Linked DNA regions of Homo sapiens: region 1 is linked to region 2. The links come from fine-mapping of genetic effects on gene expression. Tissue or cell type: monocytes after R848. Region 2 holds a variant in brackets; the other region holds the start of a gene. All regions are shown on one strand. Distances are between the middles of the regions.

Region 1 (5,646 bases), 39 kb before region 2:
TCTACTAAAAATACAAAAAATTAGCCAGGGGAGGTGGCAGTCGCCTGTAGTCACAGCTACCGGGGAGGCTGAGGCAGGAGAACGGCGTGAACCCAGGAGGCGGAGCTTGTAGTGAGCCGAGATCGCGCCACTGCACTCCAGCCTGGGTGACAGAGCAAGACTGCGTCTCAAAAAAAAAAAAAAAAAAAAAAAAAGAATATGAAGTCCCTAACACAATCCTTGGCACAGCATAGCTTTGCAAAATAAGTTAGTAGTTATTGGTAGCAACAGAACAAACGGTTGAGGGAAAGGAGAGGTGAACTACATAGAGATATAAAAAATGGCCTCTGTAGGCCGGGTGCAGGGGCTCACGCCTGTAATCCCAGCACTTTGGGAGGCCGAGATGGGCGGATCACCTGAGGTCAGGAGTTGGAGACCAGCCTGGCCACTATGGCGAAACCCCGTCTCTACTAAAAATACAAAAATACCGAGCATGGTGACGGGCGCCGGTAATCCCAGCTACTCGGGAGGCTGAGACAGGAGAATCGCTTGAACCCGGGAGGCAAAGGTTGCAGTGACCCAAGATCGCGCTATCGCACTCCAGCCTGGGAAACAAAGAGCGAAACTCCGTCTGAACTGGCGGGGGAGGGGGGGGGGAGGGAAATGGCCTCTGTAAATTGGTGAGGTTGGAAATGTGGAAATGATCGTTTTTAAAATTAAATTGCAGATATTAAATCTCATAGTACAAAGAATCAGACACTGCATTAGAACCTTTTTCATTTCAATGTGCCATAAATTTCAACTCCACAAGTCAGATTCAGAATACTAACAATTAAGTTATGCAACATAGGAATCCAAAGAAACAAGAATACTAAATTTGATGGCCTGCTCCCCTTTAAAAAATGTCTTAATGGAGCCTAACCTTTTCCTTTTACTGACAATTCTAAGCAAAACAAAGCCCCACTCTAAATCCGCGGGAAATGGCCCTACTTCAACATTTGAACTATAGTAACAATTATAATCTTTCACCTTCTCTGAATAAAGACACTCAGTAATAAGGAAAAGCAACTACCAGTTTAAGTCTGAAAGACTGTTTAGAGTTTATTTCTTTCAAACTCCAATATGTTTAAGGCCATTTGTCTTACTAGAAAATGTCCAAAATTGCAAAACATTAAAATAATCAGCAACTTTAGACTGAGTATGTTATTCGTAATTTCTGCCTTTCTTTACTGTCTAATTTGTATTTTATGAATTTGTCATAGAGGAGCAGACCTGGGTCGGAATCCCAGCTCGCCATCGTTGGTGTGACCAAGCACAACCAACCTCAAACCTCAGTTTTTGGTAAGATGGGGATAACACCTCGCAGAGGTGTTTGTTACGTGAGGACTAGAGGGAATATAAATCTCTTGGTATTTAAGTGCTCGAAAATGTTTCTGAAAGGGACGTAGGGGTCTTTCCAAAATACACTCCTTGGAGGCACAATAATTAAGGCGTAGGCTCAATTATGCAACACAAGCAACCTAGGAGTTAGAAGCACGGGATCTGGCTGCAGCTCTGCCAAGTATGCAAGCTGCAAGAATGACCCAGAGCGAGTTACTTAATTTCGTGTAAGAAGCAATGCGTGGCCGCTCCTAAGCCATTTCCACTGGGATACCGACCTGACCAGCCCCTGCCCCCCACTCTCCGGCTCTCCCACCCCCCCACCCCGTTCCGACTGTCCCAGAAGCAGCAAAGAAAGCTGCTTCCCAACTGAAGAGCCGAGACAAAGCTTCCTTCTCTTTCTGCCCCTCTGAGCCGCTCGCTGGGGGCCCAGTTTCAGAACCAAGAGCCAGATCCCGTCTTGGGCGCCGAGCCTCGCGCGCCCCCGAGGATAGCAGCCTAGTCCCATGCCATGCACTCCCTCCCTTGGACTCAGGGCCCTCCGCTCAACGGGCCCTACCTCGTTCGCCATGTTCACGGATTCTGGTCGGCGCGGGGGGCTGACATCCGGGGTGGGCCGCGCAGCGACGGAGGCATGGGCGTGGCGAGCGCCTAGCGAGGGGGGCGGGGCGTGGGGGGGGCTTGCAATGGCTCCAACCGGAAGGGCGGTGCTCGAGCTGTGGTGCGTGCCGCTAAGTTGTGCGTTCCAGGGTGCACTCGCCGGCGAGGCTGCACGGCGCCGGTTTCATTGCTAAAATCCGACGGACTTGTTGCAGAACTCGTTTTTTTTGTCGGGAAAGGGCTTCCCCGTGTAACTTTACAGCAGTTATCGTAGATAAGACTTGCAAATTACAGATGTGGACGGTGAGGGAACGGGAATTTCACTGAAAGCGCCTGAGAACCAGTAAGAGACCTGCAACAGCTTTGTGCTCCACTGGCGAATGCTTCCTCCCCTAATACACATTATGTGTGCTTGGAGACACAAGGAGTAAGATACAGCCCCTCAAGGGACTCGTCATAGGGAGAGGACACAGCTTTGGGAATAAAGGGGCCACAAAGGAGGAGAGAGGAGTTTGCTGAAACTTCCCAAGCTCCCATTCCAGCAGTTCCTGAAGGGTAGGTAGGATTTTGGGGAGACAGTAGAACGTGGGCAGAGAACTTTGGAAGGAGGAGATGAGGAGAACAAAAAGTCTCCTGATCCTGGACAGTTTTTTGTGTTAAGAGTGGGCCAGAGTGTAGAGAGAGAGAATGTAGTATTTGTCGGTTTACTCTTTCTTTGTTTGTTTGAGACGGAGTCTCGCACTGTCGCCCAGGCTGGAGTGCAGTGGCGCGATCTCGGGTCACTGCAACCTCCGCCTCCTAGGTTCAAGTGATTCTCGTGCCTCAGCCTCCTGAGTAGTTGGGATCACAGGCACACGCCACCACGCTGGCTCAATTTTGTATTTTTAGTAGAGATTGGGAGTGGGGGCAGGGGGTTGGTCTCACCATGTATGCCAGTCTGGTCTTGAACTCCTAACCTCAAGTGATTCACCCACCTCAGCCTCCCAAAGTGCTGGGATTACGGGCATGAGCCACCGCACCTGGCCTGCCAGTTTACTCTTAAACTCTGTTGTAAACGCTGAATTTTGTTAAAATAGCTCTGTCAGACACACTGCTCTTTTCTGTCTTTCAGTCTTTTTCTTGGCTCTTTTCCGGGTACATATGGTAAGATTGTCCAAAGTCTTTCCGTCCTTTCACTCCACTCTCTCACTCACACTTTGGCTTTTAACGTCTATTTATGGAAAGATGACTACCAGATTATTATCTCCAATCAGGATGGCTCCCCTAAACTCCAGACTTGGACATGTAACTGCCTACTGGATTTCTGTCTCCATTAGGATATCTCACAATCGAATGCAACTCCTAAAACTCCTATTAATATTTTCTCCTTATAGGGACTCTTTCCTCTGTGTGTTGACACTCTCCACATACTTACCCTAGCCAGAAACATGAGAGTCACAACTTCTCCCTCTCCCTCGGTCCCTGCATTCAGTTTGTCACCAAGCCCTAAATATCTCTCTGGTCTTGTGCCTCTCTCTCCCCACTGCTGCTGTATTAGTTCAGGCTTTCATAATTTCTTACAGGATTACTGAAAGAGCCTCCCATCTGATTTCTTTGATGCCAGGCCCTTGAATCTAATACTTAAAAAGGAATGCCCTGTTAGTGATCTTTCCAAAACGTAACATCAATCAATGCCATTTCCTATTTTCCTTCAATAATTTTTGAATGAGTTAGGCTATAAATAAATAAATAAATAAATAAATAAATACCATTCTTCTATTTAAAAATATTCAAGGGAGAACAAATGGATAAAATCCAAACTCTTTAGGCCACTCAGGCTCTGAATTACTTCCTTCTGTATATACCTCTATCCTTATTTCCTGCTCTCCTGCCAAATTTCACACCAACATTTAAGGAACATTCGTAGTTCCTTAAAGGGACTATGCTTTTTCTTGATTCCAGGCCTTTGTGTATGTCAATACTTCTGCTTGGAATGCAGCAAGCAATTTCTAGTGGGAAAAAAAAAAGACTTGGCAGAGAGTTTTCTTTTCCCTATTGCAGATATATTGTCTATTTTCTGGAAAGAGACACTTGCATTTTTGTAGTGCCTTGTTTAACAATAATAGGCAAGACTTTAGGTTTCTGGTCTGACATGTAAGGAATTTAGAAGTCATCACTCCATCCTAACAACAACTAAAAAGCTAAAAAAAATGAGAAATTAATAACTCTTCTTAGAGCTGTAAGTGAAGTGGGGTCACAGAGAAAACAGCTTCTCCAAAATTAGAGACACAGATGGGTGGATTCAAAGAATCACAACTTACCATAGAAACACACTTTTGCAGGAACTGTTACTGGAGTAGGAAAGTCTGAGCTGTAATTGATGAATTGCCAGAGGCTCATTGTGGATTAGTTTGAGAGTTAAAGATTCTTGGGGGACCCAATCTTAGGGGGGCTTTCACACTTTTGTGAGTTTTACCTCCGTGAATTCTCAGAGAAGATCAGAGAAAAATCCCCAATTGCTTCCTGCATGAGGAGTGTAAAAGGAATTATTTTGAAAAATTCTAGTGCATTTTGTTCTTAACAAGACTTGCCAACAAAAGAAACTATTTTACTCGAGCCTAGTGTACTGGGATTTTTACAAGTGGTTAACTGACCTGGGGGAAAGGAAATACCCAACTCCAGCTCCCTCTAGACATTCTGTACCACCTAAGGGGGTGAAAAAACAAACTGAGAACTGTGAAGTTTACAGCCTAGGGACACAGGCTCACTAAAAGACTGAGATAAAATGGTAGAACTATAGGACACTTCCCCTTCCCGTGTATCTTACCACTACATTACTAAAGGGCTATTTACTGCAATTTCTTTGACTCAGTATATTATATCCGCCTTTCAATACAAAATTACAAGGCATATTAAAAGGCAACATAGTTTGAATGGACAGAGCAAGCAGTGGAACCAAACCCAGAGGATGACAGGGATGTTGCTATTATCAGACCATGAATTTAAAACAACTATGATTAATATTGTTTGAAATGCTTGTTCCCCGGTGCTGTAAAGAAATAGTACTTGAACATAAATTTAATTTAGTAAGGCCATTTTTACTTTTGCAGAAAGGGTACACTGGCCAGCAGTTTTGCCATGAGAGTACACCAAACAAAGGAGACAGGGTCATTTATAACCTAATGTATCCACCCTACTGCTGTGTCCGGTTTCCATTGTCTGGAACGGGACCTCACATTCTGTATTTGTCCTGACTTGCTAGCAACTTAGAACTTTTTAAAAGAGGCAGAGGTAGAGGAGAACAAAGGAAGGAGGAGGTAACTTGTGGAATGCTGAGAAAGGTAAAAACACTTTTAAATAAGGAAGAGGAACAGGCTATGACCTAGTGCTTGCTTGGACTAGTATAAGCATGCCAGGGCAAATATTTAGGAGCACAGGTCTTTGAATAAATTTTGCTTATAAGAGAAGTTACCATTTATTCCTAATTAGATGGGCAGGAAAGTCTTTGAAGAAGAACCTCTACTTTATTTTTTACAGTATGCTAAGGGCTTTAATGGGAAAAGTAGACAACATGCAAGAACCGATGGATAATGTAAGCAGAGAGATGGAAATTCTAAGAAAGAATTGAGAATAAATGACAGAAAAAATACTGTAACAAATGAAAAATGCCTTTGATGGGCTCATTAGTAGACTGGATGTGACTAAGGA
Region 2 (5,000 bases):
CATTGTTCCTAATGTTTTTGACCTTTGTTTCTATTGATCAAGGCTGTGCTTGAACATTTTACCTAGAATCATTGATCCTAGTCTTACTAATCCCCCAACCCCTAAGAATCTTCCAGGTGGAACATTTCTATGCATCAGTTCCTGGGATCCCTGACATGGGAGCACTGTATAACTAAAATAGTGGATCAGAAGGTATCTTAGAGGAACTCCATGACAAAGCAAGAGAATGAGACAGTTGGGGCATCCTTTACATGTCTGATCCCTGCCACAGAGGCATGGTTTTCACCCCATTCTGATTGTGAAGGGTCTGGGGTAGGCACTCTGTGTCAAACTGCAGAACACCACGGTGCTAAACTCAGGGGTACACTCTACTAGAGGGATCTAACATACTACACAGAAACCTCTCTTTCTAGGGAGCAGGCCCAACTGAGTTAATGGTTTGTGAAATGGAAATTGTATCAATTTATGCCACCATTCTATATTGTAACAGTGTACAGATGTGCATTATTGAAATGGAAGGTTTTCCCCTCTGAAATGACCACTATTTAATCTTTTAAGCACATCTAGTACCTGGGATGTGGAAAATGTCAGAAAAAACAAGCTGGTTGCTTCTTAACATCAAAAAGAAGATAGAATCATTGTAAACGTTTTTTAAATCATTCAGTCATCTATTAGTAATGTACCTTTTTCCTTGGTTCATTAGGTCAAATGCCTCACTGATTTTGTCAAAAGGCAGGGTATGGGTCACCAGTGCATCCAGATTGAATTTCTTATTCTTATAGTCAGTGACCAGCTTTGGGATAGAATCTACACTTTTCCAACCTGTAATGTGGACAAAATGCAAAATAAAGACATGGCACTTGACACGAAGTAGTTTAATCAGCATTTGCTGAATGAATGAAATTATTAGGTCAGATTTGGTTTGCTTCAAATAGATTAAACTCCTTCCATCTTTAATTTTCTGTACTTATATCTATTTTAAAATTTTTCTTTATAAGAAAAATTTAAGATTATTTTCCACTCTATATAAGAAATTATCTCAATAAGGTCAATGTTTATTTTTTGTTCCTCCATGTTGGTTCATTCAAATGCAAATTAAATTTCAATTTGCAAATTATAATTACCTTTTTATATAAATTATTTATAAGTCATTAATAGTTTTTATGTAGTATTTGGATATGCTCTAGGGATTCAATGGTTGAATAAATTATTTTTATTTCTTTTCAATAACCTTCACTCTAAGAATTTCAGAACTACTAGGAAAAGAATTTAAAGCTATGAAGAAAAAAAAAACTGACCACCAAAGAATGTTCCATTTATAGTACGGCCGATTATTAGCTCCTCTGGAAAAATAGTCAATCCTTTGCTACCAGCAGCTACTCCAATGAAAGTACATGATCCCCAGCCTGCGGTTGTACAGTCCAGGGCTGCTTTCTGTGATGGAGCATAAAAGAATACTTGAGTCAGTGGAAAAGTAGAATATGAACTCCAGTGTGGCAATGTACAATGCTTTAGAAAAAAATTAATCCAACTCTGCATGTAAGATAATGGGATTCAAGCTAATGACATCATAGTATCATTGTAGATTGAGCCTTGAGGGCCCAGTGTTCCATTACAAATAGAATGTTCAGCACAGTCCGGGTGCAGGTGACTCATTCCTGTAATCCTAGAACTTTGGGTGGCCAAGGTGGGTGGATCACTTGAGGCCAGGAGTTCGAGACCAGCCTGGCCAACATGGCAAAACCCCGTCTCTACTAAAAATACAAAAATTAGCTGGGTGTGGTTGTGCCTGCCTGTAGTCCCAGCTACTCGGGAAGCTGAGACTGGAGAACTGCCTGAACCCGGGAGGAGGAGGAGGTTGCAGTGAGCCGAGACCACACCACTGCACTGCAGCCTGGGTCACAGAGTGAGACTCTGTCTCAAAAAAAAAAAAAATTATTAGTAAAATAAAAATAAAGATGTCTAAAAAATCAGCATACATTTGTGTGTAAGTAAATAAGTTTTATATTTGCCTCTGCTAAATGTTTAAAGTGTCAGGGTTTGGGACAAAGGTTGTGAGACTGTAAACCCAGCCAAATCTATCGTTGTGTGACTTTTTTTTTTTTGACAAATAAGACTAATTTAAAATTGTTAGGTCAATAACAGCAACTGAATCACCTAATTTATCAGCAAAATACCTATGTGTTTAACCTTATGGTTCTTACTTAGGTTTTCACCTAATGTTTAGACTTTAGTTAACAAGGGCCAGGCATGGTGGCTCACGCCTGTAATCCCAGCACTTTGGGAGGCCAAGGCAGGTGGATCACTTGAGATCAGGAGTTCAAGACCAGCCTGGCCAACATGGAGAAACCCCGTCTCTACTAAAAATACAAAAAAGTAGCCAGACATGGCAGCATGTGCCTGTAGTCCCAGCTACTCAGGAGTCTGAGGAAGGAAAATTGCTTGAGCCCAGGAGGTGGAGGTTGCGGTGAGCCAAAATCGTGCCACTGCACTCCACCGGGCGACAGAGTGAGACTCCATCTCAAAAAAAAAGTTAACAAGGAAATAACTTTAAATAATGGCTAGTTCTGCATAATATCTCAGTTATCAAAAGTTATCTAGATAACTATTAAAAATGAAAAAGTATATGTAAATGAAATAAATGCTTATAAGTGGACTTTTTGTGTAATATAAAATCTGAAAATTATTTTAAATTAAATAATAAATGCTGGATATGTGAGTCATTTCCAATTAAAAAATTATGATATAGGAAAACATGTTTCTAAAATTGTGAAATGATTTCATCTATAAAATGCTTACATCTAACAGTTCAGGATTTCTTGCTTTCTAAGTTTTCATGAAAATTTAAGGTTACTAGGAATAAGAATTCTAATTCATATATAAATATATAATTGTATTAT[C/CT]TTTTTTTTGAGGCAGTCTCACTCTGTTGCCCAGGCTACAGTGGAGTGGCGTGATCATAGCTCACTGCAGCCTCAACTTCCTGGGCTTAAGTTATTTTCTCACCTTACCCTCCCAAGTAGCTGGTACTATAGGCGTGTGCCACTACACCTGACTAATTTTCATATTTTTAGTAGAGGTGGGTTTTTGCCATGTTGCCCAGGCTGCTCTCGAACTCCTGGGCTCAAGCAGTCTGCCCACCTCAGCCTTCCAAAGTGCTGGAATTACAGGCATGACCCACTGTGCCTGGCCTGTATTCTTATTAAAGAATAATTTTACATAATTTGGAAATTATTTTAAAGTTATTTACTTAAAAAGATAAAAAAAAGTAAGTAGGGGAGAGAAATGTAAAGTTATAAATATAAAAATGTATTTTTAATAAAAGGGTTATTAAAAAAGAATAATTTCATATAAAAAAGAATCTTATGGTAAAATCTTGTCCTAAAATAAAATGACTTATTATTTAAAAGGAAAAAATTAGGATAAGTCAGAAGTCCAAGCATGTCATAGATCATCTGTGTAAGTCATAATAAGTTTCATGAAGAGGAATTTATAAAAAAATTTTGTATGTGATTAAATTTGCTGTGATTAAAAAAGGATTATTTAGAATAGTCTTTCTAAGATTATTCCCCTATGTTAAAACAAAGTCTCTTTACAGTATTGATTTGCTCTTAATACAATTAAAAGAAACTTAACTTTTAGTTTTATAACCTGTTTCTTTTGAAAACTTCTCAAAATCATATGTCAGTTCACCTTTTGCTATGTCTCCCTGCTTTCAGCTTTGTCTCCCCTTGGACAGAGATAACTCTTTTCTTTAGCTTTTTCATCAGCTATTATAAGTTTTTTTCCTCCAGTTCTAACTATTCTTATGGCCTGATACTAAAATGTTTTATCTTAAAGGTCTAGGAGTGAATGTTTTCCTCCAGTACAACTTGATTCTGTACTCTTGGCTTTTCTTGATATGTTTAAATTTTTCAATGTAACCAGAAAATTTCTCATGCAGTTACTAAGAATTATGTATTCCCCTGCTGTACTCATAATCCTGAACACACTTTTCCCATGTCTGATTAAATTCAAGCACTTTTCCCATCAGGTTTATTGAAATGGGCTTCCCATAAGGAGAAGCAGTCACACTACCAGTTTTTCTTTCCATTTCTGGTAACTGACTTAAGAAACAACATTTTACATTTTATCAAAATAATTCCCATGTTGTCTACATTAGGTTTTTAATTGCTTAAAAAAATAGTGTTAAGGTTTTTACATCCATACATCCTCATGTATTGCCTTTAAAGTCTTTTGATGATTTATTTGGCTAAATAAGTAACTATTGTTTTACAATGACCTGTGGTTCTGTTTTAATCAAATGTTTTGAGGCCTTTAACATTTTTGACAAACACTTTCAAAATTAAATTCTAAATTAAGTCTCTGACTTATTGCTGGGGGTTATCAAAGCTCTAAAAAATTAATCACTGCAAGGTTATAAAATCTTTCTACAGCTTCCAGTCAGGTCATAGACTCCAGTATCACTACATTCAGCTCCTTAAAAGGGTCCTTAGCAGGTGTTAGTAAACAATCCTTGTGCTGGTAAGCTACAGGGTGTTGACCCTTGGTTTAGAGGGTTAGAGGTCATTGGAACCTAGAAACTTTCTATAGAAGCTTTTCCTAGCTATAGAAACTTTTGGTGGGAGAGTAGGTAACTCATCTTTTGGTGATTAAATAAATCTTTCTCTTTCCATTTGGATTCTCTAATATAATTCTGTTCCATAATTGAAAATGACTTTCATGGTATAATAAGTCAGCTTAATAATAGAAGATGCTAACTTTTAGGTCAGTGGTTCTCAACTTGAGAAATTAATTTTTAAAATGTTGTCAGTGGGCTCCCAGCACACAAGAATATCCTGGGTTTGGCCCATTCATTGGTATTAAAAAAGCAACAAAACAACGAAAAACCCCTCAGGAAATTCTAACATATAGCTAGTGTTGAGAATATGTTAATATTAAATATAACAACACATGCACATATTGTTTATTAATTTTAAATATTATATACTGTTAAAGAAAAG

The links. PIP is the estimated chance that this variant, and not a neighbour inherited with it, causes the effect.
Region 1: it holds the start of ADH5, and the variant in region 2 is fine-mapped to the expression of ADH5 in monocytes after R848 (Quach 2016, PIP 0.95).

What each region holds. Positions count from the first base shown.
Region 1 is chr4:99,086,771-99,092,416 of GRCh38, forward strand. ADH5 (alcohol dehydrogenase 5 (class III), chi polypeptide) reads right to left here and starts at 2,018. Exons shown (of 9, transcript NM_000671.4): 1 at 1,919-2,018. The coding sequence starts at 1,930. It overlaps LOC100507053 (a long non-coding RNA gene), which reads left to right and starts at 2,087. Exons shown (of 10, transcript NR_037884.1): 1 at 2,087-2,514. RefSeq lists a promoter at 1,963-3,216 and a silencer at 2,001-2,050.
Region 2 is chr4:99,125,911-99,130,910 of GRCh38, forward strand. It overlaps ADH4 (alcohol dehydrogenase 4 (class II), pi polypeptide), which reads right to left. Exons shown (of 9, transcript NM_000670.5): 7 at 1,299-1,434; 8 at 684-822. All of the region lies in intron 1 of LOC100507053 (a long non-coding RNA gene), which reads left to right. Among named protein-coding and RNA genes, the nearest start is that of ADH4, 16 kb to the right of the region's middle. The variant C/CT (reference allele first, on the strand shown) is at 2,901.